Linked DNA regions of Homo sapiens. The protein of the gene in region 4 interacts with the protein of the main gene of each other region in a biochemical or structural test. Each region holds a gene or a part of one and is shown on either strand. Other genes may lie near its edges.

Evidence for each region.
Region 1: the proteins of MAGI1 (region 4) and PTH2R interact in a test that uses a peptide from one of them, tested with the Homo sapiens proteins (one large-scale study listed by IntAct).
Region 2: the proteins of MAGI1 (region 4) and MYOT interact in a test that uses a peptide from one of them, tested with the Homo sapiens proteins (one large-scale study listed by IntAct).
Region 3: the proteins of MAGI1 (region 4) and JAG1 interact in a test that uses a peptide from one of them, tested with the Homo sapiens proteins (one large-scale study listed by IntAct).
Region 5: the proteins of MAGI1 (region 4) and CTNNA2 interact in a test that uses a peptide from one of them, tested with the Homo sapiens proteins (one large-scale study listed by IntAct).
Region 6: the proteins of MAGI1 (region 4) and EZH1 interact in a test that uses a peptide from one of them, tested with the Homo sapiens proteins (one large-scale study listed by IntAct).
Region 7: the proteins of MAGI1 (region 4) and SCN5A interact in a test that uses a peptide from one of them, tested with the Homo sapiens proteins (one large-scale study listed by IntAct).

Annotation. Positions count from the first base shown.
Region 1 is NC_000002.12:208,409,792-208,413,291, reverse strand, and holds part of PTH2R (parathyroid hormone 2 receptor isoform 1 precursor), read right to left. Parts: intron 1-3,500. UniProt on the Homo sapiens protein: This is a specific receptor for parathyroid hormone. The activity of this receptor is mediated by G proteins which activate adenylyl cyclase. PTH2R may be responsible for PTH effects in a number of physiological systems.
Region 2 is NC_000005.10:137,884,860-137,888,351, reverse strand, and holds the end of MYOT (myotilin), read right to left. Parts: intron 2,305-3,492; coding exon 2,139-2,304; intron 1,489-2,138; coding exon 1,355-1,488; intron 1,140-1,354; coding exon 967-1,139; 3' UTR 501-966; downstream 1-500. UniProt on the Homo sapiens protein: Component of a complex of multiple actin cross-linking proteins. Involved in the control of myofibril assembly and stability at the Z lines in muscle cells.
Region 3 is NC_000020.11:10,643,000-10,646,499, forward strand, and holds part of JAG1 (protein jagged-1 precursor), read right to left. Parts: intron 3,086-3,500; coding exon 2,972-3,085; intron 2,471-2,971; coding exon 2,357-2,470; intron 2,258-2,356; coding exon 2,144-2,257; intron 1,981-2,143; coding exon 1,864-1,980; intron 1,386-1,863; coding exon 1,358-1,385; intron 865-1,357; coding exon 779-864; intron 1-778. UniProt on the Homo sapiens protein: Ligand for multiple Notch receptors and involved in the mediation of Notch signaling. May be involved in cell-fate decisions during hematopoiesis. Seems to be involved in early and late stages of mammalian cardiovascular development.
Region 4 is NC_000003.12:65,430,419-65,433,918, forward strand, and holds part of MAGI1 (membrane-associated guanylate kinase, WW and PDZ domain-containing protein 1), read right to left. Parts: intron 464-3,500; coding exon 281-463; intron 1-280. UniProt on the Homo sapiens protein: Plays a role in coupling actin fibers to cell junctions in endothelial cells, via its interaction with AMOTL2 and CDH5. May regulate acid-induced ASIC3 currents by modulating its expression at the cell surface.
Region 5 is NC_000002.12:79,873,051-79,876,550, forward strand, and holds part of CTNNA2 (catenin alpha-2), read left to right. Parts: intron 1-1,025; coding exon 1,026-1,292; intron 1,293-3,500. UniProt on the Homo sapiens protein: May function as a linker between cadherin adhesion receptors and the cytoskeleton to regulate cell-cell adhesion and differentiation in the nervous system. Required for proper regulation of cortical neuronal migration and neurite growth.
Region 6 is NC_000017.11:42,738,541-42,742,040, forward strand, and holds part of EZH1 (histone-lysine N-methyltransferase EZH1), read right to left. Parts: intron 1-3,500.
Region 7 is NC_000003.12:38,608,188-38,611,687, forward strand, and holds part of SCN5A (sodium channel protein type 5 subunit alpha), read right to left. Parts: intron 1,778-3,500; coding exon 1,547-1,777; intron 28-1,546; coding exon 1-27. UniProt on the Homo sapiens protein: Pore-forming subunit of Nav1.5, a voltage-gated sodium (Nav) channel that directly mediates the depolarizing phase of action potentials in excitable membranes.

The DNA.
Region 1 (3,500 bases), on a different chromosome or scaffold from region 4:
ATAACACTCCAAGATGAAAGGAGGATCACTTTCTCAAGATTCAAGTGGTGGCTCTCTGTCATTTGTAATATAATTTAATGAGTTCAAATTGCCAGTCTTCTACATTGTTTATAAACATTCTGTGTGTGTGTGTGTGTGTGTGTGTGTGTGGTCACTTTTTAAACAAATAAAGATGAAATAACTACATCTGTGTTTATATTTTATATGAGCAAATAAATTATGGAGAAAGAGGTGGAAGATACACAGTATTATCTGAGTGGGATTGAGAGGAGATGGGACAGTAGTGAGAGAGAAAGAGAATGAGTACATAAGACAGGAAAATAGTCATAGGAAAATGGAAAAAAGTGGATTGTATAATGTCAAGTGAAAATATATATAAAATTTCATTTATGACATAATTGAAAGTATATATTAATTGAATAGGCACATAGACAAAGACTAAATAGAAATGTGGGTAGTTTCTGCTTTTGATCCCTGTTATATGTATATAGTAAAAACACTCTTTAAAGCTAGCTCTGTTGATAACCTGAAAAAATATGAATCTCTGGTATGCTGGAACTCTAAACCTTATACTCTTGACATGATAAAATGAGACCCATAATTTTGCCACTTATCTGTGGCCACCCAGCTAATTTATAGTAAAACGTGGACTACAGCCAGGTGTCCTATCTCCCAGTACAGTGTCCTCACACAGCACTACCTCTGCCTTTCAAGGCTATTCTATGGCAGCTCTACTCAGTGATGGAGTTCATTTCATGGGGAAATGAAATCAGCCAATGATTATCACTCTAGAAATAGTGTTGACCTGTTTTTGGACATGACAAGTCATCAAGAAGACTGTTTCCTGCCAGCAATTGGCAATGAGAATCTGAGATTACAGAAAATCAGGCTGAAGGCCAAATTATAGATCTACACATAATAGCAGCAGTGGCCAATGTTCTATTCATTTCTAACTAGTGTCACTCCCTCTAGGCAACACATCTGTCATGCAGCACAGCTGTGCGATCCTGGGAGACAATAACAACTGGGAAAAGTAAAGTGGTAATATCCATCAGCAAGAAGGAAACAAATTTTGAGCAAAAGCAATGAGGAAGTTAGATATTGATCAAGTACTTATATTAATAAATGTAATATTATAACAGCTATCAGTGTTATGAAGAAAATGTCCAATTGCTATCAGAAAAAATGTGGGTTCTGAAGAAGAAGCCGTAAGAAATAAAAGGAAGAGAAAATGGCCTCGCAAAATTCTCACATACATACACACCCCATTTAAAAGCCTTCAGGAGTTCTCACTAATGCTTAGAAATAATCTTAATCTAGTAATCATTCCATTAAAAATAACTTAACTCATCTGCTAATAAAAGAAGAGGAAAGAGCTGACATCTTTTGTTATCAGGCACCTTTAAGCTTTTTGTTTGTATATGTTTAATTCAAGACTCACATTCTATGAGTAGATGTCACTATAATGCTTATTCTATGAGTAAGTCCTATTTTACAGTGGAGCCAGTGGAGACAACCAAGAGATGAAATTAACGACTAAAGTCACACGGCTGTTTAAAAATTTAATGAATAACCCAGAGAAAAGAAAAAAACAAAACAGAGGGGAAAGAAAGGACAAGATGGGTTCCAGTAGATGACAAAACCAATTGAAGTTCAAGACAGGAAAATAAGTGAGATGCATGAATGCCTGCTGAAAATATTTTATTTTGTCACAAAGAATTGAGGAAGTTCTGGGAATATGAAACCTACTCTCTGTGCATTGGCAAGGAAGAGCCACACCTGGGACCCTTCCATCTCACTGCCTCTGGTCTACCAGGGCTGAAGAGACTACTCACAATTAATGCAGCCACCAGGAAGCCCATTCCTCAGGGATTTAAGGCTTCCTTATAACTAGAAGACAAATGGAAATAGTCCTCGTTGTCAAGAGAAAAGAATGAGAACAAACCAACTCTCTTATCTTTAACTACAATAGTGTTTGTGGCAATAAACACAGTATAGAGATAATCAAATGTTGAGTTTCCATTTCATTCTGCCAAAGACAGTCCCTAGTTTCCACTTTGGAGAAGCTGCCTATATTCTAGGACTTGGTATGATCTCAGCTCACTGCAACCTCTGCCTCCAGGGTTCAAGCGATCCTCCCACCTGAGCCTCCCAAGTAGCTGGAACTACAGACGTGTGCCACCATGCCCAGCTAATTTTTGTATTTTTAGTAGAGACGGTGTTTCACCATGTCGGCCAGGCTGGTCTCGAACTCCTGACCTCAAGTGATCTGCCCGCCTTGGCCTCCCAAAGTGCTGGGATTACAGGCATGAGCCATTGTGCCCGGCTGTCCTCATTCTTAACTCCATCAGTAATAGTTTTGACAGTTCTGTTTATTATCACCACAATTTGTAATTAACACATGCGTTGAGATGCAGAGTGCAGGCCTACTTGATTTATTGATTTATCCCATTTTATGTCTATACCCCACTCCTACTTCTCTACCTCCCATATACAAGCATTTATGTAAGACACACACACACACACACAATCTTTTATCTGAATATGTTCATAAAACATATATTACTGTTTTATGTGCATGTATTTTAATGTATGTAAATGATATCATACCATATATCCTATTGTTTCTGTCACATGTTATCCTGTTTTTACGATCTTGTCCATGCTGATTTGTGCACATTTAAGCCATTGCTTTTTATTGCTACACAATACCCCATTATAAACACCCAGATTGCCCCTAATTCTCTAACACCACAGAATTACTGCAAGAATCATTATAGACCTGGGTGAGAAATTCCCTGGGATAGAGACTCGGGGCGGAGATTGCTGGGACAGAGGACATGTGTATACATAATGTCACTAAGCAGTGCCCAGCTGATCTCCACAATGAGGGTACCAGTAGGAGGGGTGGGCCCCAGAGGTAAAAGTCAGAGTATAAATCATGGCTGCTTGTGTGAGTTGAGTATATTATCTAACATCTCATAGCCCCATTTTCTCATTTATAAAAATGTGAACAATTACAGTGCCCATCTCATAAAGTTACTGTGATAATTAAATGAGAGAATCAAGTACTTAGCACAGTATTTGGTACTTGGCAAGTAGCATTACTGATTACCATTTTTCCACACCTAGAAAGAGATTTCTGATTTTCTAGTAGGCTCTGAATCTTCATGCTGGAAGGTCAACAGTAGGAATTCTAAGACCTGGCCATTTTTTCGCAGCATGGGACTCCTCTGATGGGCACCTTTCCCCCAAGGTTCTCCTTTGAGTTGGAAAAAATTTTGTCAGATTTGCTTGCCGGTCTGAGGTTACCCCTGTCCAATCCTTCTCCCTCTCCCTTTCAACTTTCACAAGCATTACCTCCTCCCCTAATAAACCTCTAGCACCCCAATTCCATCCTACAGTCTGTTACCAGGAGGATCCACTAACACAGTAAAGAAAATACTGAACATGTTTATATAGTGGTCCTCATTACCATGTGATAATCTGACTATAGAAAA
Region 2 (3,492 bases), on a different chromosome or scaffold from region 4:
AATTATTAGAGGAAAAACACCCATATATAGGTAATCAAATTTACATAATTTTTTTTTTTTTAGAGATGGAGTCTCGCTATATTTCCCAGTCTGGCCTCAAACTCCTGATCTTAAGGGATCCCCAGCTCAACCTCTCCCAGCAGCTGGGACTACCGGGCTGTCAAATTTACATTAACTATGAGAATTAAGCAGGTAATCTCTAGAGACTATTCTTATTCCTTTGAGCATAACAGACTGAAAAATCCTGAAGAATTAGAAACCTGTTTGGTTAAAACAAAATCACAAATTCAGTAGATTCAGTCATGATTTAAGTTCTTGTGATTGCCTTTGAAGTGCAAACCATGGCAAGTCTAGCTTAGTTTCTAGAGGAATTGGCTGAGCTGTAAGTGAGCTTCACACTGTTCTAGAATATAACATTGCTCTTTTGGAACTTGTTATTCATAGGTTTTGCTGAGTGGAGTTTTATTTTACAGATCTAGACTTTTGTGAAGAGGAGACAGTCCGTTTTAAATATTTGAATTTTATTTTCTTTTGACATACAACTGTGGAACACTCAGATAATCTATACCATGTTAGTATTCCTACAAGAGAAAACGGGTAAAACAGTATTTAGAAAGCAGTACCAGTAAACGTTATTACAAGCATTAGATGTGTTTAAAAAGTTGATACTAATTTATAACCTGTAATTGTTAAATGTGCATGACTTAAATGTTAAAATCCTGTATTTTAAGATAGTCTTCTGCAGTTACAAATCCATATACCCAGATTTCCTGTAGGCTTCACAAATCGGAGGGGTACATAGAATGTGCAAGAGTCAAAGGATAAATAATATTATAAATATATATTAACTATATTACCTAATTAAAACCATAATCTGTTAATACAGCTATGGATTAATTTCAAAAAAATGTAATCAAATATATTACTAATGGTGTAGTTGGCTGTTTTCCAATGTTGGTAAAGTTATTAAAGTTCTTCACTTTCATAGAGTCCAGATTGAGCTGCCAAACGCTGAAATTCTCCTTCTGGGTTAAAAGCTTGTTTTACATTCAAACCTTTCCCATTAAGTGCTAAATATTTGCTGAATGTTGGTCGAACCCGTAACTGCTTAGGAGCTGGAAGAGTTTGGTTTGGACGTGCTGAAATAGATCACATAAAAGTTGATTCAGAAAACCTGTTCTAACCAAATTGGTCACACTAGGTATTTATTATCAGACAGGAAAAGAAAAAAGAACCAAAACTGATTATATATGGGGAAAATATCTCAAATTTTATACTCTGCTGGGATTTTCATTTCTTATTAAATCTTCCTAGTTAAATCCCTTATAATACTTTGGTTAATAGTATGACATACCCGTAACGTCTAATCTTGTGTTACATGTAGTCACTCCAGCTTCATTAACTGCTGACACAGTATACCACCCAGCATCTTTCTTGTTTACATCTTTTATCAGTAAAGTAACTCTTCCAGTGTTATCTTGATATAAGCTGAAATAAAAATTTTTAAGAAATGAAAGTACAGGAATTATTTCTGTGAAGTGGATGTCTCTGACCAACAGTCAGACTAGGAAGAAAAAAACATTTGAAAATTCCAAAGCTGTATCTATTTATTGCCAAATAGCTATTGGTTTTCTTGAATTAAACATCCCCCCTTGGGTGCTGTCTCCCTCTGCTCTTCAATCTGTCCCCTGATGGTCCCTGTCATTCACTCGGGTGTGTCTGTGTTTGTATTTATGCGTATGTATAGGGGAATGGAGGGGTCCTGACCTGTTCCGTTATCTGTCTCCTACCTCCTCCTTTGTTTAATAAAGGCTGAAGCTTTTTGTAAAGAAAGAAAAGAAAAGAAAACATCCCCCTTTAATCTTGTTTATGTCATTTATTTCCTTGGGCCATCTTTCATCATCGTTGATAAAAAGATAAATCCTAGTCTACTTTATGCCTTACATTTCTGATTAGTGGAATCTGGCTTACTGAAGTTTTCTTACATTTTTATCTAATATATATTTTATTATATTATTCTTTAGTGTTTTAAAAACTAGACAAATTGAGATAAATGCATGCCATTTATAATGCATGTTAAAAAGTATAACTGGATTCACCCAAATAAACTATAGTAAGTCTAGAAATACATATCCTACCTTATTCGGTCAGTGTTGAATTGTACCATTTCATTATTTCTTTTCCAGAAAAGCTTTGGTGGAGGTATAGCCGAGATCTGGCATTCTAGTTTCACTGAATCTCCCTCTAAAACTTTTTTGCTCTGTGGTTTGTAGATAAACATTGGTGCTCTTTTATGTTCTTTTGCTATATATTAATACAAAAATTCAAGTATTTGAAATATTATAAAAAAGGTATTAAATCAAACCAAGGTATTATGAAATTTGTATGTTGATATTAAAATGTTAAAAAGCAACAGCAACAGAAAGAAACTCAGTAAAAAAGACATGCAGTACTATTTTGTTATACCATTCAGAATTCTAAACTCTAATGTAATGATGCATTGAATTGATAATCAGATAATTATATTTCATTCAAACTAAAGTCATATTCTTTTTTTTTTTTTTTTTTTTTTTTTTTTTTGAGACAGAGTCTCGCTCTTTTGCCCAGGCTGGAGCGCAGTGGCGTGATCTTGGTTCACTGCAACCTCCGCCTCCCAGGTTCAAGGAAGTCTCCTGCCACAGCCTCCTGAGTAGCTGGGATTACAGGTGTGCACCACACCCAACTAATTTTTGTATTTTTTTTAGTGGACACAGAGTTTTGCCATGTTAGCCAGGCTGATCTCTAACTCCTGGCCTCAAGTGATCTGCCCACCTCAGCCTCCTAAAGTGTTGGGATTACAGTCATGAGCCACCGTGCCTGGCCCAAATTTAAGTTATATTCTTTATCATCTCATCTACAGGGAGGCAGCATGAGTGATGGAAAGAGTATCAGACAGCTTGGGTTCAAATTACCTATTGGCTCCATGAGCCATGCCAAATTGGTAAAATTTTGTTTAGTTTCTCTGAGTCTCAGTTTTATCTATTGTTATAAAAAAAAAATCCCGGTAGTAGTGACTGTTGTGTCTACCACACAAAATAATTGTAAGGAACAAATGAGATAATAAACAAAGAGATACTTTGTAAACTCTGAAGGAATGTGGGAATATCAGTAATTATTATGACCTTATTTTCAGCTACCTGAGGGGAGACAGGAAACGATAGTTCAGTACCATAACCCTGGTTTTTCTGAAGGAGAAATGAGATTAAACGGATGGCAGCCAAGATCTCTTTCAGCTCTACTATTGTAGTATTTCTGAAGCCATTGGTACAAATAGGATTTGTCTAAACTTTAATCACTTAAATTGTATGTGTTTTTGAAAATTTCCAGCCCACTAGTTTTTCCCCTGAGATTGAGGCCCTTTGGTATATTATTGAATAATCTTAAAGATTTTGTATTGATCTGGGTAGAATATAAACTCAAGAAAATAGTTTATCCTTTAACCTGATCAAACTT
Region 3 (3,500 bases), on a different chromosome or scaffold from region 4:
AATGAATGTGTGGCTGTGTGCCAAGAAAACTGTATTTATAAAAACAGACAGTGGGCTGGATACGGCCCCTGGGCCACAGTTTGCCAACTGTTTATTTAGAAACATGAAACAGATACAACCTGCCCCCATCTAGTGCTGAAGACTAGTTAATCCCAGACTTGGATTTCAAGCACCAGTAAAATTTCAGACAATTTGGGTACAAGAATCAAACCATAACTACTCTAGCACCTTTTTTGTTCTGTAAGAGAAAGGGCTTGTAAAAAAGTAGAGAAAAGGCTCAAAATAATATGCTTTAAGCCTCTTGAAAAACTGCGTTGCCTGCCCCTATTTTCCTGTTTTAGTCATTTCTCCAGGGCCTGATCAGACCCAGCACAGACAAGCCTCTGGAAGCCACAGTCGTCCTCCCTTCCGTTTGTATTAGCTTTATCCTATACCAGTGTAGCTGTGGTTAACATCTGCTTGCCCATAATTTCATGTTAGTCATGGGGAAATGCACATACTTTCTTCAGGACCCCACTGTAGATTAATCATCAGATTCTGTGACTGGCACTCTCTCCCCAAGAACAAGGAGGGCTACACCACCCAGGGAACTACCAGCAGGTACCTGGGAGGATCCAGCCTGGCATATCTTAATCCCAGCTGGAGGAGAGAGATCCTTTGCTCTATGAGAGCTACTTAAAGGGAATGGTGGCTTTGTTTTTAAAGATGAAAGTCTTGGGGTGAGGCATGGAATGAAGCGGTAAAGCCATTGGGAAAACCAGACGGAGACAGTCCTTACTTATTCTGCAGTCGGGCCCAGCAAAACCCGGGGCACATTCGCACCGGTACCAGTTGTCTCCATCCACACAGGTGCCGCTGTTGTAACTAAGAAAGCAAAGACCACCTTGGTTACCAACCTCCCAGTCCATTACTCTGGCTGCCAATCACTCACATGTCACCACACCAGTTACAGTCAGTGGCTCTCACCCCATGGCCGTTGCCTGGGGAATTTTAAAAGAATACTGATGCCTGGGTCCCACCCCCAGAAAGTCTAATTTCACAGGTCTTGGTTGCAGCCCAGGCAGCGGGATTTTTAAAAGCTCCCAGGTGATTCTGGTGTGCAGCCAAGGTTGAAAAATCACTGCTCTAAATGAGGACACAACCTGGCTAATTAAAGTGTGGTCCATGGGGCAGCAGGATCGCTTCACCTGGGAGCTTGTTAGAAAAGCAGTCTGAGGCCCCACCCCAGACCTCCTGACTCAGAACTTGCATTTTAAACACAATCCCTGGGTGATTCTCACACACACACACACACACACACACACACACACACACACGATAGTGGATGAGTGCTGGCTTAAAAGGATGTCACACTTACCAGGGATGAGGGCTGCAGTCATTGGTATCTGCAAAGAAAAGACAACTTAATAGTGAGGACTTCAACAGGGAAAGCGGTCTTAGCCCTAAGTAAAACCACCACTTATTTTCCTAATACCCAAATGATAAAGTCGTAGTTAACACCAGCAAAATACCTTTGCTAAATTGGAACCAGGCCCGCACCACACTTAGTTTCATTTGCTGTGGGACACATGTACACAGGAAGAGGCCCTGGTAGGGGATAGGGGTGGGGGTGAGAATGGAAGGAGACAGGCTGCTGGTCAGACCCAGAGCTGGGAACTGAGACGCCATCTGTCTCCACTTATCTTATTGGCGACTTTCTCATGCCCAGGTCAGGGCTGTATCCCATCAAGTCATTAATGCAGACCCAGGTGATACAAAAGCAGACATCAAACAGCTCTGCTTCTGGTTTCCATTGCAAGTCCCCAAGGGTGTCAGGATCTGCTCCGACAGCCCTGGGAGAGTTCAAGGGGGGAGGACACTCACTCTGAGCACAGATGGGCCCCTCCCAGCCTTCCTTGCAGACGCACGTAAAGGACTCGCCGTTGACCACACATGTGCCCCCATTATGGCAGGGGTTGGGCAGGCAGCTACTGTTTCGGGCTATAAAAGAAGAGCAGACACGACCACCCTCCCTGAGTATCCAGAAACAGTCTGGAGGGGCAAGAACCAGGCCCAGAGAAATATCATAAGCTCCAGGGGCCAACCAGCAGACACGCCCAGGTGGCCATGCCCACTGCAGATCCCACGTGGGGCATAAAGTTACCTATGTTACAGGTTGTTCCTTCCCAGCCGCCAGGACACATGCACTTAAAAGCATCCCCCTCATCATAGCAGGTGCCACCGTTGTTGCACGTGGCCTCATCACACTGACTGTCACCTGGAGGAAAATATTTCAGTGTGAGTCCCAGTGGCCCCCTCCCACAGAAGACAGAGGGAAGGGTCCCAGAGATAGCATCCAAGGCCAACTACCACTTACGTGAGTGGCAGGTCTTTCCTTTCCACCCATTTTTACAGTCACAGTAGAAGTCATTGACCAGGTCGCGACACGTGCCCCCATTGTGGCAGGGGTTCTGGCTGCAGTCATTAATATCTAGAATCAAAGGGGAGACAATCGGCTGAAGACGAGATCCAGGACCATTCACGACAGGCGAGAGCCAAGCCTTTCCTACTGCTTACATCCAACATCCTATTCTGAGAACAGCCACAGTCGTAGTACTTTAACACAATCAGGCTTTTCCAGGAATAAAGGAGCTCCCAACTGGGTTACTTTGAATGCCACAAGTTAGGCAAGATGTGGGGTGGGCCTCTGGAAGTCCCATGGAAATGAAAGTAGAAATATGACTTTCCTTGCAAGCAGGAATATTTATTACACAGTCTAATTCTATAGGTCCTCAGCAGAAGCTCCTCCCCATAAGCTATCATCAGGACTCATAAATGCAAATGAGACACAAGTGATACTGTCCCAGTGCAGAAATCACTGCGGTCTTGCTTCCAGAGATTTCCAGTACAAAGAAAGTTTTCCCACGTTGAAGTGGGATCCCTCCAACATGACCCATACATCCCAGAGCTCCCCAAAGAGTGGCAGACTCACTGGTTTCACAGTAGGCCCCCTCCCAGCCGTCACTACAGATGCACTTGTAGGAGTTGACACCATCGATGCAAGTGCCACCGTTTCTACAAGGGTTGCTCTCACAGTCATTAATATCTATGAAACAAAGTAAAGCAAAAAAAGAACTGAAGGACTTGTGAAGCCATAGACAAGCACTGTTCAGCAGTTTTCATGGCTCCCTCCTGACACAATGCACCTGGCACCTCCACCTGCTACCCTCCATCAGGGCTGTTTCTCAAATTAGACAGGCGGCTTATCAAGCAGAAGCTTCCAGAGAGTGCCTTACCCACTTAATGCCCTCACATGGGCATTTAGTCACCGGTACTAGGTGAAAGTGGGGAAGAAACTCCTACAGAAAAGAGGAATCACCCAACCTAGCAACATTCCAGAATGTTCCAACATAGATATGGAGGCTCCGAGGCAGAGTGATCTGGTAAATTGAACACGACCTCAGTCTTAGATCCCAGATGTAAGGATAAGTCTCAACCAGTCTCCCCAGCCTTACTGTTTC
Region 4 (3,500 bases):
TTTATTTAAATGGGGATCTACAGTTTTAGTAACTCATTGCTTTACTGTACTCAAACAGTTTCCCAAACTTAAAATGACTTCACAGGTTTTAATCTGTCCCAAGGGATGAATTTATGTAATGTGGAGACCTGGCTCATTCTCAAGGTGTTTAAAGCTGTAAACATGTGCAATCATGACGTTGCTTGGTCTTGCTCAAACAAACAACATCATGATTGCACATGTTTATCTCCTGGATTGGAGTCTCACCACACAGAACACACTAAGGCCATGTTGACGCTACCTGTTTCCATCTTGCCATCCAATGCAGCAGGACCATCTAGGACCAAGCTCTTGATCTGGAGAAACTCATCAGGTTCATCCCCTCCAACCACCGTGAAGCCAAAGCCACGACTGCTTTTCCGCAGCTTTGTGTGAATGAACTTGCCTTTCAACTCAGAAGGGTTTCGTGTAAAAAAGGGTTTGCCTGGATTAAAATAAGAAACGCATAAGGAATGTCACCACTGGTGAAAAGGAGAATTAAACAAGATTTGAGACAACATATAGATAATTCTTCACGCTTATGCCCTAGAGCCTTTGGGCATATAGCATCTTAAGAAAGTCCTCTCTTAATTTGAGGAATAAGGATGTTCCTAGGCCCCAGTGTTGATGGAGGGAGGTAAAGCATTGAGTATGTCAACTCCAGGGTCCAAAAGAAACTACAAGAGAGGGATGAAACTAGTCCCTGTCAGGTGACACACTTCTTGGTTTCCATTCATGCACTTTGACAGGAATTGAGCTGCCACAAACCCCTTCACAGAAAATGGAACTGGTCTGTTTTATGTCTTTTGTTTTGTTTTAATTTTATTTTGCTATATGGCTTCTGATGTGCTGCTTTGGGCCTGGCTTCCACTTGAAAAACCAACAGAACTAATCAAACGGAAAATCCAGGCTGAAAATGCACAGATAATACCAGAAAACATATTATAGTCACAAATAATAATTTGACAAAAATGTAGAATGACTATTTTCAAAATTAAGGGTCATTACTTTGAATTGAATTCTAAATTCAACTGATTTTTTCCTATTTATCTGATCTTTTATTAAATTTGTGATATAGCCAACGCATGCCTAGGGCTAAGAATTACTGTTTAAAACAAGTTTAGGATATTTGTTTAAAAAACACAAACCAAAAAAACAAACAAAGAAACCCCCCCCACAACACACACACACAAAATCCCTAAACTAAGTAGTTACTAACAGTAGCCACACAGCTCCAAATTCAGCTGTCTTATTTAAAATAAATTAGGCTGGGGGTGTGGTGGCTCATGCCTGTAATCCTAGCACTTTGGGAGGCTGAGTCAGGTGGAGCACTGAGGTCAGGAGTTCAAAACCAACCTGGCCAACATAGTGAAATCCTGTCTCTACTAAAAAAAAAAAATACAAAAATTAGCCAGATGAGGTGGTGGATGCCTGTAATCCCAGCTACTTGGGAGGCTGAGGCAGGACAATCACTTGAATCCAGGAGGTAGAGGTTGCAGTGAGCTGAGATTGCGCCATTGCACTCCAGCCTGGGCAACAAGAGCAAAACTCTGTCTCAAAAAAATAATAAAAATAAAATAAATTTACAGATAGAGGTATCGCTAAATTATTTCCAAACATGCTACCTAAGGTTTTATTGAGTTTTCTTGATACATTCACAAATAACATTTTGAACATAAACCAAAACGTTTTCTTTTGGGTTTTACTAGGCACTTCTCTGTAATTGAGAAACTTACTGGAACTTCTCTGATTATCCCAAGTAGTAGACCTAATTTCATGAGCAGCTTCTTTCATCTCTTCTAACTTTACTTACTTCTTATACCCTGTCCTTGCCACACACAGCTTCTCCATCTGCCCTGTTTCTTTTCTATCAAAAATGTTATCCAAAACAAAAAGAGAGAGAGAAAGAGGGAGACATTAGTCCCCTACACCCCTGTACTAGGAGCCTGGCACCTAGGAAAGAAAGTTATTTTTGGTTAGTTATATCTAAAAGAGTTTAAAAGGTCTCTGGGCATGCATACAATTTTTAATTGCATATTTTAAAAGTTTCTGGCTCTTGCAAAGAAGGCTCTTTTAAATTGCCTGCAATCAGAGGTCCTTTCGCTAACCTGCTCTCTAGCGCAGTCCCAAAGCTTATTGGAAGGTTGACAAACTACAGCCCTGTCATAGTGGCTAAAGAAAGGCAAGACTTACAAGGATTCGCCACGCAAAGTCATCTGCCAAGGCGTTGGGAGGGTGGTGTCACTTGCACCAAGAGCTTTGGGGAGACAGCTGCCAAGACAATTATCAGATGGAAATTGAGGTGAGGTAAGATAACCCCCAAAGTTTACTTTAGGGGGAGGAGGGTGACTGGCCTACACTCTTGTAGCAGGTGCTGCTAGGGCATTCCAGGGCCCTGAAGGGAAACACATTTCAGTTATGCAGAGACATCAACAGCCATTACCTTCGCAGCAAGACCTTCCCTAACCACCTTACTAAAAATTGCAGTACCTCCAACATTCCCAATCCCTTTTTCCTGCTTTATTTTTGTCCTTAGCATTTACCACCTTCCAAAAGAATATACATCTTACTTATTGCTTTGGTTTTCTTACTATCCCCAACTCCCATGCATGAGTGGCATTGATATGCAGGTACATAAAACCACTAGAATGTTAGCTCCATGAGGATTTTTATACGTATATCAAGTATCTAGAATATTGTCTGGTACATTTTATGTGCTCCAAAAATTTCTGTTGAGTGAGAGAATGAATGAACAAATAAAAGCACACAGAAATGATATTTATCATGTCTTTGAGAAGGCTGAAAAGAGGTGTTTGGTTGTTGGAGCTTTTCACTCTTATTATAGGCTAAGTTAGAAAACGTGAAAATGTGCCTGGCAGTTTATCTACTTAAAAAAAAATACATTAGCATATTTTGTGCTGAGAATGTTAACTTAATAAAGACATGAGCAGAGCTTTGAAATTATACGACTGACTTCCTTTTCCAATGTTTAACAAGGGAAGGAAAATCAGAGGGTTTCACATTTATGCACATTTTATTATTTTTTACGTATGGGTGGATCATTAGTTAATGTAGCTTTTGGAAAGAAACGCTTTTCACCCCATAAGCAGTGGAATTTGGAGCTCTCAGCTGCAGCCCTGTGGTACATGTAATTTTCTAAGATCCTAACCTCTGTTTACCAGTCACCAGCGGTAAGACTTGGTTGTGTCTTACCCAGGGAAAATCCCCTGGGTAGCTTTTTAAAATGTACTCATTTTCACTTCCTTCCTTAGACTCACTGATCAGGATGTTCTGGGTCTTGGCCCAAAACTCTGCACCTGAATGAACCTTAGGTGCATGTTTCCCTGCCAGGATGGGGGGAGGGGAAAGAAATGTCACTTCTTGACACTAGTGTTTAAATACCCTAGACCAGTACCGTCTAATGGCACTTTCCGTGATGATGGAAATGCTCTGCACCTGCACTGTTCAATATGGCAGCCACT
Region 5 (3,500 bases), on a different chromosome or scaffold from region 4:
AAACTTAATGATGAGCTGCCATTAGAGGCTGTCAACAACAACAAAGCAGGAACCCTATTCTGAAAATGATAATTAAGGGACACTGATGTGTTGAGCAAAAATCAGAAGTTTGGTTTCCCATTTGTAACAGTAATTGAATATGGAGGCAAGTAGGGCCTCAGAAGACTGACGTTTTCAGGTTTTCTGTCTGTTCATAACTAACTGTATGGCCCATGCAATCAATTTACCTTCTTGGTGGCTTGGTTTTTATATTATCTCAGCAATATTTTATTGAATGCCTCTTATAGGCCAGCCACTTTGCTAATGACTAAAGAGCCACTGAATAAGAAAACTAGGGCTCCCTGCTGTCATTAGAGGTACGTTATAGAAGAGAAATATATGCTCAAAAAATACAGTAAAGTAGGAAGTGTTAGTGATAGGAGAGGAAGAGTGTCTTGTGGGAACAGATGAAAGGGGACACAGCTTAGAAAGTTGGGTGGAGGATGTGCCAAGTCAGTGGAGCCCTGTCAGGTGAAAGGGTAGGGCAGAGGAGGAAAGCTCAGGCATTTCACATAGAAGGGACAGTAGGCCAGGTGTGGTTGCTCATGGCTGTCATTCCAGCACTTTGGGAAGCAGAGGTGGGAGAATCCCTTGAGGCCAGGAGTTCAAGGCCCACCTGGGCAACATAGCCAGACCCCACTTCCACAACTTTTTTTTTTTTAACTAGCCTGGTGTGGAAGCATGCACCTGTAGTTCTAGCCACTTAAGAGGTTGAAGAGGGAGGATCACTTGGGCCCAGGAGATGGAGGCTGCAGTGAGCTTTGATAACACCACTGTACTCCAACCTAGGTCACTATAGAGACCTAGCTGTCTCTATAAAACAGACAAACAAACAAAAGAGTATATGCAAAGGCCTGGCAGCTAGAAACAGCACAAGGGTTTCTGAAGTTCAGTGTGTTACTAAGAGTCTGTGACTCCAAACTGTGTTGCAAATATTTCTATGCAAATTTCATGTGTGTGACAGCTTTCATGTGTTACACACACAGGAGCTGAAGGATCCTCACTGTCGGGATGAGATGGCAGCCGCCCGAGGGGCTCTGAAGAAGAATGCCACAATGCTGTACACGGCCTCTCAAGCATTTCTCCGCCACCCAGATGTCGCCGCTACGAGAGCCAACCGAGATTATGTGTTCAAACAAGTCCAGGAGGCCATCGCCGGCATCTCCAATGCTGCTCAAGCTACCTCGCCCACTGACGAAGCCAAGGGCCACACGGGCATCGGCGAGCTGGCTGCGGCTCTTAATGAGTTTGACGTAAGCATCCTGGTGAGGTACACAGAGGGGTGGGCACTGGTGTTGACAAAAAAAAAAAATGTATTGAGGATGAAGGGCCACTACAATAATTTACATTGATTTTTCTCTTTTGGAGGTTTTAATAGTAAGATAAACTACATAATGCATTTCTGTAATATATTGGCTAAGCCATTATCACTTGTCTTTAAAGAAACAACTGTGGCTGCGGTGGCTCACCCCTGTAATCCCAGAACTTTGGGAGGCCGAGGTGGGTGGATCACCTGAGGTCATGAGTTCGAACATGGAGAAACCCCGTCTCTACTAAAAATGTAAAACATTAGCTGGGCGTGGTGGCGCATGCCTGTAATCCCAGCTACTCGGGAGGCTGCGGCAGGAGAATCGCTTAAACTCGGGAGGCGGAGATTGCGGTGAGCCGAGATCGTGCCATTGCACTCCAGCCTGGGCAACAACAGCAAAACTCCGTCTCGGGGAAAAAAGAAGAAACAACTGTATTTAAGAGTGCCCAATCCCTTCCAGGTAGATGAGATAACTTACAGGCTATTTTAGGGACAGTTCATAATTTGACGATCATCTTTATTATTAAAGGGGCACATGTTATGGGCAGCCTAGATGTACGTTGCCTCTATGTTGTGCCTGCGTGAAAAGCTGCCATCAATTTCTTTGTTTTAAATCAGTGATAAAGTACATTGCCCTATGATCCCACACAGGACCCTGGTCTTCATTAGAACAGACCCTCTGGGGAGAGCCTGTGTTAGTTCTCTGAAAGTCCTACATTCTACACTGGCTGTTTCTGTAGGTGTGTCCTGGTGAGGGAAGAAGCAAGGAGGATTGTTCACTGTGCTGAGCCATATGTGAAGCATCAGTGTGAGTGAGAAGGTTGCACGCATGTCATCAGCACCCCGGGATGACAGCCCCCATTCCCCCCGGGTCAGAGGACCTGTGAGAAGTTGGAATTTATTTATCTTATGATCAATGAAAGCCTACAAAGATTTATAAATAATTAGCATCTACTTTCCAGGGTTAAATAACCCTGCAGGGGAGATGAGGGAAGTAGAATGCACTAAACACCATTTAATTGATAAAACACAATGTTACAGGAATTCATAGAAGAAAAATAGGTTACTTAATGGTCATGAAGAAAGATGATGAGCTTGCTTTTGAATATGTTGATGTGAATTTTTGGCAAGAAATAACTAGTTAGCAGCTGGAAAAAAAGGTCCAGGAGCAAAGCAATGATTGTTCAAGGCTTGGAGATGGATGATATAACTGAGGAATAATTTTAACAGTTCATACTCAAATAGTTCTTACCATTTTCATAGTGGTCTCTCCTCTTTCCCATATTTTTACAGTTAGTTATATGTATCTCACACCATATATTATTTCCTAAGGTTTTTTTTGTGAGGATTAAATATGATAATATATTTAAAGCACTTGCTACAGAAATGAAGACTTAATAATAGGTAATTTTATTCACAAAATTGCAGCGAGCAACTGAAAATTCATAGAAAATAATGAGAGTTCAAAATAATGTTTACTTTATATAACATAAATATACAAAAATCTCTAGATTTTCATCATGTAAAATAAAGTAGAATAACGAGGAGATATTCACAAAACAAATAATTTTTAAAAAGTTAATTTTATTTTATTATTTCTTATATCTGCTAGAAATAAGTCTAATATAGATGTGAAGGACCTAAAAAGTCAAATTATATTACTTTATTGAGGGACAAGTTTTACTTGTCAGTAAATGATATCATGATCTTGAGTAGGAGAACTATTGATCCTATCAGTTTTCATAATGTTGAAGCAATCTCAATACAAATTCTAAGAGGATTCTTTTGGAACTTGACAGAGGAGTGATAAAGGATTTTTGTTTGTTTGTCTTTTTTTATATTCTAGAATAAAGAATGAATGAGCCCATATTTCAGGGAAAAGTAAATGAGCAGGTCATACACACAGATATTAAAACATTGTAATGCTACATTAATTTTAAAGGTGTGTATTGAAACACAAATGGACTCATCCATGAAAGAATAAAAATCATAGGCAATCTCAAATACAAAATTATTTTATAAATTGGTGTTTATTAAAATTAGTTAAGAATGGATTATTTAGTCAGATTTTGACACAATTACATTATTCTAGTTATAATTTATTTTATAATCAAAAATAAACAACAAAACCTAAGTGAGGAGCTGGTTAAGA
Region 6 (3,500 bases), on a different chromosome or scaffold from region 4:
GAGATGGAGTCTCACTCTGTTGCCAGGCTGGAGTGCGTTGGTGCAATAACAGCTCACTGCAACCTCTGCCCCAGCTAATTTTTGTATTTTTAGTAGAGACAGGGTTTCACCATCTTGGCCAGGCTGGTCTGGAACTCCTAACCTCAGGTAATTCACCCACCTTGGCCTCCCAAAGTGCTGGGATTACAGGCGTAAGCCACCGGGCCTGGCCTAGATTTTTTTTTTTTTTTTTTTTTTGAGAAGGAGTCTCACTCTGTCACCCAGGCTGGAGTGCAGTGGTGCTATCTCAGCTCACTGCAATCTCCACCTCCTGGGTTCAAGCGATTCTCTTGCCTCCACCCCCCCTGAGTAGCTGGGACTATGCTCGCCACCAAGCCGGGTTAATTTCTGTATTTTTAGTAGAGGCGGGGTTTCACCATGTTGGCCAGGATGGTCTCCATCTCCTGACCTCGTGATCCACCTGCCTCGGCCTCCCAAAGTGCTGGGATTACAGGCGTGAGCTACCACGCCTGGCCCCTGGCCTATATTTTTAAATATTTCATCCTATTCCTTTTTTGATTCATAGTGTAATTGAAACCTGAATGATAGGGGTGAACCTATCCCTGCAAAGAGCTCTAGTAACACACCTTTGGGTCATTCTGGTGATCACCAATTTCATCAACATTTCAATTAAAATCAATTCTGTGACTAGGTACACAGCCTGATCTCTCAGTTAGGATCTATAAAGCACATCTCTAATTTATACCCTCCAACTTCTCTGAGGTATTTTCATCTGTCATTAGTTTGAGCTTCTGGGCACTACACACAGAAAGAACCTTCCTAACAGGAACCTGTGACTCTGAATTCTAATTTAAAATAAAATTATAACATTAGTATTTCCTAGTGTTGCTTAATTAAGAGAATCAGATCAGCTGGGTGCAGTAGCTCACACCTGTAATCCCAGCACTTTGGGAGGCCAAGGCGAGTGGATCACCTGAGGACAGGGGTTCGAGACCAGCCTAACATGCAGAAACCCCGTCTCTACTAAAAATACAAAATTAGCCGGGCATGGTGGTGGATGCCTGTAATCCCAGCTACTCGGGAGGCTGAAGCAGGAGAATCGCTTGAACCCAGGAGGCAGAGGTTGCAATGAGCTGAGATCGTGCCATTGCACTCCAGTCTGAGCAACAAGAGTGAAATTCTGTCTCAAAAAAAAAATTAGATCGTATGCACTGGAGGTAATGGTAACAAAAATCTAAACAGGATTAGTTTTTTTTTTTTTGAGACAGAGTCTCGCGCTGTCGCCCAGGCTGGAGTGCAGTGGCGCGATCTTGGCTCACTGCAAGCTCCATCCCCCAGGTTCACGCCATTCTCCTGCCTCAGCCTCCCGAGTACCTGGGATCACAGGTGCCCACCACCATGCCCAGCTAATTTTTTGTGTTTTCAGTAGAGACAGGGTTTCACCATAAACAGGATTAGTTTTTATGAGACCCAAAGGAAAATGCTGGCTCACAGGATTTATAACTCTGGTTTAATTTTATTTCATTTTATTTTGTTTTTTGAGAAAGGGTCCCACTCTGCCGACCAGGCATGATCATAGCTCACTGCACTTCGACCTCCCAGGCTCAAGGGATCCTTTGGCCCCAGCCTCCCTAGTAGCTGGGACTACGGGCACATGCCACCATGCCTGGCTAATTTTTTATATTTTCAGTGGAGACAAGATCTTTTTTTTTTTTTTTGAAACGGAGTCTTGCTCTGTTGCCAGGCTGGAGTGCAGTGGTGCAATCTCAGCTCACTGCAACCTCCGCCTCCCGGGTTCAAGCGATTCTCCTGCCTCAGCCTCCCGCGTAGCTGGGACTACAGGTGCAAGCCACCACGCCCAGCTAATTTTTGCATTTCAGTAGAGACAGGTTTCACCATGTTGGCCAGGATGATCTCGATCTCTTGACCTTGTGATCCACCCGCTTCGGCCTCCCAAAGTGCTGGGATTACAGGCGTGAGCCACTACGCCCAGCCTACAAGATCTTGCTATGTTTCCCAGGCTGGCCTTGAACTCCTGACTTGAAGTAATCCCCCTTCCTCAGCCTCCCAAAGGGTTGAGATTACAGACATGAGCCACCGTGCCCAGTGAGAACGCTGACTTGGAAGAGTAAAAGCAATCTCCTAACAGGCTAGAGCCCTATCTTGACTGGTTCTGTACTGTGTCAGCCCAAAGTTTAATACTGTACTGTATTTAGTGCCTGCTCATATCATCCAATAAAAATAAGACTTTTTAGTCTATTTTGAATCAAATTATTCGGGTAGGTGAGTTAGAGAATAAAACACACTAAAGGTACTGAATTCCAACTACCCATTAAGTAACTCATGACTTTAGGGTGTAGTGTACTCAAGTCTCAACTGATGATTGACTGATAGACTAAGGAGTAGGAAAGAATCCAATATGTACACAGTTTGGACATAAAACAAAACAAAGAAAAAGCTGGGGACTTTCCAGAATGGAGAAGCACAATTTTTCTTTTTTTAACCTTTAACCCTTCCCCTCAATCCCAACCTATCTAATTATCTTCACTTTTCTCCACAAATTGTTTTCTCTTTTCTCTTTAGTTTATTCTATGTAGAAATGGAATTAGTGTGTTTTTAGTGTTGCTACCTCAAATCTTTTCTGGGACGCTACTAGTGAACAAAATAGAAATAGTGAACAAAGTGGAAACTGTTTTTGAGACAGGGTCTCCCTTTGTCGCCCAGGCTAGAGTACAGTGGTGCCATCTCAGCTCACTGCAACCTCCGCCTTCCAGGTTCAAGGGATTCTCGTTCCTCAGCCTCCCAAGTAGCTGGGATGACAGGTGTGGGATGCCCACGCCCAGCTAATTGTAGAAACGGGGTTTCACCGTGTTGGACAGGCTGGTCCCAAACTCCTGGCTTCAAGTGATCAATCCCTCGGCCTGCTCCCAAAGTGCTGGGATTACAGCTGTGAGCCACAACGTGGGGGGCCCAAAGTGAAACTTTTTAAACTTAATCTAAGACCAGAAAAAGATATACTTAATGACATGAATTGTTACATGTTTCATATAAACAGCAAATCAAAGGGAAGGAACTGTTGCCTACAGAGTAATGAAGCCAGGTTTCAGACCCTAGGAATTAAAAATAGACAAAATTAATATTTTGAATCGGTTTCTTATTTTGTTTTGAGACAGGGTCTTGCTCTGTTGCCCAGGCTGGAATGCAGTGGCTTGATCTCGGCTCACTGCAACCTCTGCCTCCTGGGCTCAAGCAATCCTCCCTACTCAGCCTCCTGAGTAGTTGGGACTACAGGCCCACACCACCAGGCCTGGCTAATTTTTGTAATGTTTTTGTAGAGACAGAGTTTTGCCATGTTGCCCAGGCTGGTCTCACACTTCTGAACTCAAGTGATTCGCCCACCTCGGCCTCCCAAAATACTGGGATTACAGGCATGAGCCACAGTGTCCAGACTTAAATTGGTTGTTTGAAGGTATCATCCAAAGGCAAATATATAAGAAACA
Region 7 (3,500 bases), about 27 Mb from region 4:
AGGTGCCGTTCTTGAGCAGGTAATTTTCTGTAAGAGAAACATCATGCTGGTGAGGGGCACTCTGGCCCAAAAGTTTCCGCCTTGCATCCAGGGCTCTGGGGAGGTGGAGACCTCACTAGCGGTCTTCCTTCTTCTCTGCCCCTTCCCTGCCCCTGCCCCTGCCCTCTGCCTGGCCAGGCTTCAGGCAACTCTGGCTGTGCCTCTGGCCTTCCTTCTGTTCCTCTGAAGACATCCTGCTGCCAGTGTCCCCATGCTCTCAGAAGACACGGGAAGCCCTGGGCAGGGCCTCAGCTCTCCCCACAGGAAGCTTCTGCACCCTACCCGAAACCACTCAGGGGGCCCACCAAGGCCAGGAGGCAAGGGTCTGGGCAGTTACGGCTTGGCTGCCGAGTCACTGTGGGGCCTTGGCCGGCTACTGCCCAGCTCTGTACTCACTTCCATCACATAAAATGCTGGAAGTGATGCCTGCAATAGTCACCATGCTAACGCTGTGGTCTGTCCGGATGGGGCTACACCAGACAGGACTGCCCGTCTTGTCCTCTCCTTTCTGTGGCAAGTCATCAGTCCCCAACACTCACCATTACCTGGCTTTGTCTTAGGCGACAGTTGTCAAAGCATGGTCCTCGAACCAGCATCATCAGCATCAAGTGGAAACTGCTTAGAAATGCAACTTCCTGACTGCCACCCAGACCTACTGACTCGGAAACTCTAGGGGTGGGGCCCAGAAGTCTGTTTTCCAGAGCCTTCTAGGTGACTTGGGTGTACATGGAAGTTTTAGAACTGCTGTTATGAGGCCACTGCTGAACTACTCATTGAGTGTCTATGTTTTGTTTTCCAAAGTGGACTGCTGGTGTATGTAAGAGGCCCTAACTTCAGAATGGCCCTCAGGGTCATTCTGGCCCAGGGTCCTGTGGCCTGGAATCTGGCCTTGCAGCAGCATGTACCTCCGAAACAGACCAATGGCTCTAGTCAAGAGTGGTGCTGGCCATCAGCCTGGAGAATGGAAGTGTGAGCCACGGGGCAGTGAAACAACAGAGGGGCTCACACAACTTGGCACAATCATTGGGCTTGTTCCAACCCTCTTGCAGGGTTCTGGGGTACACGTATATGGAACGAGCATCCTGGCAAGGAACACTGACGGCAACTGGGAAATCTCCATGCCAGCTAGGTGGGGCTTCACTCTGAAGCCTCATCAACTACGCTGGCTCCATGTCCACCCCTTTCCTAAGCTGACACTCTGTGGGCAGGCTGGTCACCTTGCCATTGCAACACTCTAGGGTCAGTCCCATCTCCAAATGCCGCAGCCAACTGGCCCTCTATCTAACTCCATACTTTCCACTCCTCAAGCATTGCCTCTCCGTCTAGCCTGGGAAGTCACAAGGCAGGCCCTAAGTCTGCTACCCGTCTGTCCTCTGTCTGGGTCTCTGGGGGATCAGGCAGGGCTTGAACAGCCCTGGAGGCCTGCCCTCTGGTGACGCGTGTGTGGGAGGTGACCCCGGTCTGCTGGTCTCACAAAGTCTTCCCCAGCTGCAGAGCAAGTTCGCACCTGGATCACTGAGGTAAAGGTCCAGGGATTCCCAGACCAAGCCGTCGGCCTCCACGGAGCCGTTGGTGCCGTTGAGCGCTGTGAAGTTGCGCACGCACTTGTGCCTTAGGTTGCCCATGAAGAGCTGCAGGCCGATGAGGGCAAAGACGCTGAGGCAGAAGACTGTGAGGACCATCACATCAGCCAGCTTCTTCACAGACTGGATCAGGGCCCCCACGATGGTCTTCAGCCCTGGGGAAGGCAAGAACAAGCACGGGGTCACCCAGGGGCACCGAGCTCTGTGCTCCACTGGTGGGGGGCTGGGCCTGAGTTGAGCTGGGGTGGGGCCAGTGTAGGCAACCAGAGGTGGGGACAGAATAAGGGAGGCTTCTCCTGGGCTTTGAGACCCAAGCCCCACTTTCCTCACAGCTGAGATTCTGTCCTGATTTCCCTGGGCAGGAGTCTAGGCTGGCTTTGTAGTTTCAGAGGGAGCCTGCTCCTCTTTGCTCTCCACCAGCCAAATATATGGCATGGGTGTGGAAAGTGCTGCTTTCTTGAGACAACACATACTCAGAGCATGACCCCCTTTGGCTAGTCTGAAGGTGTGCTAGGCCTACCCCTTTTAATGTAGTCCATGGAAAAGGAGATGGAGGCAATTGAGGGGCCTCAGCCTTGATCTTGAGATGGGGAGAAATAGAGCCATTCCTGCTGGAGGTCCTCCTGCCCCACTGCTGGGGCTGGCTCTATTTGATGTACAGGGAGTGTGGATTGTTTGGAGGAAACTAGGGGCCCAGGGTCTGGTCGGGTAGGGGCTGAGGGCTGTGGTCAGGTGTGTGCTGGGGGCTGTGGGTGACGGTCTGGCGGGGTCATGGCGGGTGATGTCTAAGGGGCCTGCGCTGGCTCAGGCCCACCTTTAGGGAAGGTTCAGGAACAGGACTGACCTGCATTGCATCTTCTCACTTGCCCTGTCCCTCTAGAACCTCCCCACACCCCCATCCATCCCATTTCCCATAGCTGAGAGGCTGTGTTCTGTTAGTTGCACAGCCTAGCTCCCTGCAGAAGCCAGCACCACATAGCAGAATGACAGAAAAGCATGTGTAGACACCAGTCTGGCCCTTAGCGACTGTCCTAGGACAAGTGCAAGCAGAGCATGGGGAATGAGGAGGCTCCTCTGCCAGCGGCAGGGCCCTGCCCCTCATGTCCCTGTCCCAAGCGGCCAGATCTCAGATTAAGCTCCATCCATCCACTGTCCAGCCGGTTAATGTGTTAGGAGCGCCTGTGGCTTCTGTGCCTGCTGCTGCTGGGCCTGTGACCCACAGGCAGGGAGGCCATGATGAGCAAACACAAGATGGGGAGAGGATGACCTCCCCATGGTGCCACTGACATTGCTGCCCACCCAGGGCTCAGAGGCACTCAGCCTTCCTTGTGGAAATCGTTCCTGGCAGATGTTGGCAACTGCCTGGGCAGTGGGTGGACCTCACAGGTCTGGGTCCAGAGTAGTGGCGGTGGTGAGATTCACAAGCTCTTCATGGTCCAGAGCTCCTCATCTGTAACAGAGCTTCCTGTACCCTTTGGTGGGTTTACTGGGCTGGAGACCTGCATGTCTCGAAGGGAACAAAGTGAAGACTGATGGACAGCAGCTCCAATACCCAAACTGGTCTCTGCCTCAATTGTTAGGCTAAAGTCTCTTTGGCCTGAAGTATCCCATTCAAGGCCAGCAAAGCACCCCCTGACCTGGTCTGTGGACATAGTGGCCAAGGGTAACTCACCCCTTTGAACATTTCTCATACTGATGATAGATTTCACTTCTGGCAAGAATGGTTGCAACGAAACTGCAGGATTCTTTCTGAAAAGACCCAGGAAGGGATTGGCCCCAGGAGATCAACTGGGAAATCCTCCTGCCACTGAATTAACAGGCTGGGTGGAAGAGCCCTTGGAAATCACCAATTCTGATTTCACTCTCATTTTATGGAAA